Regions from separate parts of the Homo sapiens genome. Here region 2 is linked to region 1. The links come from fine-mapping of genetic effects on gene expression. Tissue or cell type: thyroid. Region 1 holds a variant in brackets; the other region holds the start of a gene. All regions are shown on one strand. Distances are between the middles of the regions.

What was found. PIP is the estimated chance that this variant, and not a neighbour inherited with it, causes the effect.
Region 2: ZNF23 starts here. The variant in region 1 is fine-mapped to the expression of ZNF23 in thyroid (GTEx, PIP above 0.99).

What each region holds. Positions count from the first base shown.
Region 1 is chr16:71,396,891-71,399,573 of GRCh38, forward strand. No RefSeq gene overlaps it. Among named protein-coding and RNA genes, the nearest start is that of LINC02136, 28 kb to the right of the region's middle. The variant A/G (reference allele first, on the strand shown) is at 1,296.
Region 2 is chr16:71,460,809-71,463,491 of GRCh38, forward strand. It overlaps ZNF23 (zinc finger protein 23), which reads right to left and starts at 1,439. Exons shown (of 5, transcript NM_001381984.1): 1 at 1,402-1,439. It overlaps LOC124903709 (a long non-coding RNA gene), which reads left to right and starts at 1,504. Exons shown (of 2, transcript XR_007065105.1): 1 at 1,504-2,484. RefSeq lists enhancers at 1,038-1,127, 1,398-1,557.

The DNA.
Region 1 (2,683 bases):
ATATTTTTCTCCACAGGACGTTGACCATGTGAGACAGGTTTTGGCGGCTCCCCCAGTAGAAGCCCACAAGGGTGGCTGACTCATGTATTGCTCTTCCTGCCTACATCCACTGAACCCACACACCTAGGGGTACCTGCCCCTTTCAGGGCTCCCCCTCACCGAGTACCCCTCTCCTCTCCAGAACAATCAAGTCTCAGGGGCCAAGCAAGCTGTGGAGGGCTGAATAATCCCCACCAAAGCTGTCCGTGTCCTAATCCTGGGGCATGGTGAATACATGATCTCACGTGGCAGAAGGGAATTAAGGTTGCTAATCAGATGACCATAAAATAGGGGGATATCCTGGCTTGTTTGGGTGGGCCAATGTAACCACAGGGGCCCTTCTGTGTGAGGGAGGGAGGCAGAATTGTCAGGGTCAGAGTGACGCAATGGAAGAAATCCTCCACCGGCCATAACAGGCTTTGAAGATGGAAGAGGTGGCGTCTAGAAGCTGGAAAAGGCAGGGAAAGAGATCCTCCTCTGGAGCCGCCAGAGGGAACACAGCCCTGCCAAGACCTTGATTTTAGCCAAGTGAGATCCAGTTTGGACTTCTGACCTCCGGATCAGAAGATGCTGCCTCTACTTCTGGGTGTATGTTCTGCAGCTGCCCCAGGGCTCACAGGAACTCAGGTACTTCCATGTTTGGAAGTCCTTAGACAAGGTGCCTACTAGGTACACTCTTTCCTGCTTAGCAGGTGTGAATCCTCCGAACTGTATGCCAAGGGAGCAGCTGTGCTGAGCTGACCTGCACATACCAATCCCACAGTGAGGCAGAAGAAAAGCCGAAGAGACGGGGGCTCCAGAGACTGCCCAGAGGCCTGGCTCAATGTGCTCCGTCCTCCCCACATCTGTCCTTGGTTTCCACTCAGAGACCACAGTTGGCTGTGGGAAAATGGCCAGACATCTCATTTTGGATCTCAAGTCCCCCATCTGTAGAATGGGGAGCTTGGAACAGATGGCATCAAAGTGCCCTTCAGAATCTTACTTCCTAAGCCGTGCACGGTGGCTCACGCCTGTAATCCCAGCACTTTGGGAGTCCAAGGCGTGGATAACCCGAGGTCAGGAGTTCGAGACCAGCCTGGCCAACATGGCGAAATCCTCTCTCTACTAAAAATACAAAAAATTAGCCGGGTGTGGTGGCTCGTGCCCGTAGTCCCAGCTATTCAGGAGGCTGAAACAGGAGGATCACTTGAGCCTGGGAGGTGGAGGCTGCAGCGAGCCAACATCACACCACTGCGCTCCAGCCTAGGCAATAGAGC[A/G]AGACTCTGTCTCAAAAAAAAAAAAAAAAAAAAAGAATCTTACTTCCTAACCCTTTGATGAAGAAGATACATGAGTGGCAAACAAACACATAAAATATGATGAACATCAACAGCCATTAGGGAAATGCAAATTAAAACCGCAATGAGGTACCCCTGCATACCAGCCAGAGCCAAGTCTCATTTTAAAATGCTGTATTGCAGTATATAAAAGCAGAGTCCACTAAATTGTGGTGGGTTACAGAGAGCCAAAGAAGAGAAAAGGTTTCCTCTTAGAGCCTGAAAATAGAACATTGAAACAACATTAACAAGAGTTTAAAGAAATAACTATGATGAAATTCCCACAGCACCTCATGCAGTCCCATGAAATAAATTCTTGTTCCACTGGATCTTGGATCCGCATTCTCTGCTTTCATGAAGTCGTCTGCTTGTGGATTAAAAAAGAGTCCTAGAACTTAGATCTTCGGTGGCCTCATGTAAACCCAGCAGCCAGCCTCTTCTAGAACCCCAGCCCAGGGACTGGAGCAGGAAAGGGACCTTCAAAGTGAAGACTGCCTTGTCCTGCACCTCCTTCTGGCTTAGATTGAAAAATGGGCTTCCTAATGGGTTAAATCCTTTAAAACAAGGAGTTGTGGGGGAAGGGTGTCGTGCACTCCTAGAGAAAGGTACACAGTTGCCCAGCTGGGAATGTGCTTGGCGCTGACCCTGTGGGCATCCAACTGGTCTTCCAGCTCAGGAAAAAGAATTTGAAAGAGGCTTAGCATGAAGGGGAATCAAACAGGAGGTTGTGATTTGGTCGAAGGTGCCTGGTTTAGTGCTGTAATTGTCTTATTATATATATTTCTTGGAGTAAACATTTTAAATAAACGACATCATTGTCAAAAAAAAAAAAAAAAGAGTCCTAGAAATCCTGATTCAGTCCACTGTTACAATCTGAGAGCTGCTTAAGTGATATCAGTTCAGATGCCTTGCTCACGAGTCTATAAAATGCAGACAGTTGGAAGTATCTGGTCCAGTCATTTACCACCAGGCTCTAAAACTGTTCTTTTTCGTTGATGACACCAACTGCAGCCTGTAGCTTAGAGGAGAACCTTCAAGCAAGCATCAGAGAAAAGCAAACACTATCTGTAGATGACAGAGACTTCATAGCTGTGGTTTTTTTTTTTTTTTTTGAGATGGAGTCTGTCTCTGTCGCCCAGGCTGGAGTGCAGTGGTGCGATCTCGGCTCACTGCAAGCTCCGCCTCCTGGGTTCACACCACTCTCTGCCCCAGCCTCCCGAGTAGCTGGGTTACAGGCGCCCGCCATCATGCCTGGCTAATCTTTTGTATTTTTAGTAGAGACAGGGTTTCACCGTGTTAGCCAGGATGGTCTCGATCTCCTGACCTTGTGA
Region 2 (2,683 bases), 64 kb after region 1:
CTTACACACTAGAGAAACTCTCATATGTAGGAAGTACGTACAAAAATATTATCAGCACATTTTAATAACAAAACACTGAAAACAACCCACATGTCCATTGAAAATACATCGATAAATTTTCATACAGTTTTTACAATGGAACATTACCCAGAAGCTACACACAGAATGAATTTGGAAACTTAACATTGAATTATGCGAGTCCCAGATGACTTATACACACAATGGTGCCATTTATATGAAGCTCAAAAAAAAAATTTAAGTACATTGCTTACAGATACATGCATATGTAATTATTTTTTAAAATAACAGGGCTACAATTAACACAAAAGTCAATATAACTGTTACCTCTAGGGGTTGGAGGCTGGGAGTTGGGTTGAGGAGGAGGAACACATTGATAAATTCAGCAGTACTGGCAATCTTCTCTTTCTTAATTGGGTGGTGTGTTCATGGATGTTTACTACTATATATGTAACATATAAATATATATTTTAAATAAATATATAAACCAGCAAGGATGGGGTGAAATTGAGGACCCAAAATGTAATACAAAGAACAGCCAATGTGCTTAACTATACTACAGTGAACATAACCACACTTAAGTGGTAGGAAAGAAAAGGGGTAAGCAACTTTGGAAAACAGTATTTTGACTAAATACCATAAGAGTAAAGACAAAAAGACCTGTATCCAAGTACTGTACTTTAGGTAGTAAATTTGCTTTTCATGGGGGTATGAATTAGCGATTCTGAGACTACTAAATATATTCTAAAACTGAGTGAATTCGTAATTACGTTGTAGAAGTCATTCCCAGGTCACTGTCAACCCTGAGCCGAGAGAAGCAGGGCTGAGTTACCTTTTGGGACTGACACTGCTCCAGGAGACAATGTCCTCCAAAAGCCGGGCTGCTTCTGCTGCCGGGTGACTGGGAGGGGCTCTGCGCTCCCACTCGGCCCTAATTCATGACCCTATGTCAGGAGCCTGGGAGCACACGGTCCATACTCGGGATGCACATAGGTTAATGTTCCTGCCAGACCTCAGCATGTCAAAAGACTTGTGGTATCACCTCGGGCCGCTTCACGCCCGCAAATATTCCATCTTTTAGCTGCACCGACACATCTTCCCCCGTCGACCAAGTGCTAAATGCTCAGGGCCTCGTGGCTGGGACAGCAACGTGCGTTTCCCCTTCCAATGGGCGCAAGCTATTGAGCCACAAAGACCAAAGCTGGAGTCGAGGAGCGCGGAAGAGCACCCCGGGCCGCCGCCCTGCTCCCTCTCCCAGCCTGGGCCTCCTGGCAGCGTAGGCCACGGGAGACCCTGCAGCACCCAGGGTGGGAGTGCGTCTCAACCGGACCCAGAGCCTGGGGGACAGGGCACGGCACACAGCGCCCGGAGCCCTGCACTCACCTCCGTAGCGGACTGCTCCCCGGCGCTGCCGGAAGTGCGTCACCAGGCGGCCGGGCCTCTCTAGGAGCAAGGTCGCTGCGCCTCGGTGGTGGTCACGCCCGGCCAGCTGTGGCCGCATCCCTGTCGGCTAGCTCGGGTCTGGCCCACGGTGACTGTTACCCCTGGGGAATGGGGCAGGTAAGAATCAGAGCCAAGCGGGGACCCAGCCCGGGGAGGTGAAGCTGCAGGTGCAGCCACGTGTGGGAGTCTTGGAAATGGACCAGTGGATGGCGCGCTGTCACACCCAATGCCCCCTTTTTCTAACAAATAGTTTGTAATGTCCATCTTATTCTCCTGACCTGATATTCATATATAATGGCCTAGAAAATCATACATAACATACACACCTACATATTAAAAACTAATGTTATGCCTTAAGTGTAATGAAAGAGAAAAAAAAGAGGACCGTCATCTGTCGTTTAAAAACACATACTTCAATGTGTTTGGTCTTGGCTGCTGCAGGAGACCTAATAAGGTGGTCGCCTTTACACATAGACGTTGTCTGAGTGCCACAGCCACAAAGCTGTGACTTACATTGTTGCAAAAGTCACAAAATTATGATCCAAAATGGCAAACATGTTTTCGTGAAGTTCTGAATGAAACACAGGACAATCGTCTCTTGATTATACAATAATTACATTCCTGGAAGATCAGTGTATGTTAAAACTGTGCAAAAATACATGTTTATCCAGAAAACAGGTTTAGATTCAGATAATTTAGAAATAGAATTTTCACCTACCTGAATGTTCAGCAAGACATTTGAAAGTGTGAACATTTTTTCAGTGGGCAGGACTGTCCTGTACATTGCAGGATCCTGGCTCCTATCCACAACGCTAGTAGCAATGTTACCACTGACACCAAATATAACAAAATACCTACCATAAAATTCCAAAATGAGCCCTGGGGGAAGGGAGACAGTACTAAATGCCACTGGATTGGACGACCCTTAAAATCCCCACCCCCTCACACACCCCCTAACCCTGGTAATGTGGGCTTTTCTTCCTTCCAGCTCTGATCCATCCAACGCTGCTGCACTGGAGACTGGTATTTGGCTCCCACTTGCCTCTGTGGCTTCTTATCACTCCCATTCATTCCCTGACTCTACCTCAGCCCTACATGCTAAAAATGCTGTTCTCTAAATCTAGAATGCCCTTCCCTTCCCATTCCTACCCTCCATCTTGACTGTTACTGGAAGTGTGAGCTCAAATCCCATTTTGCATGGGAAGCAAGCCTTCCCTCATCA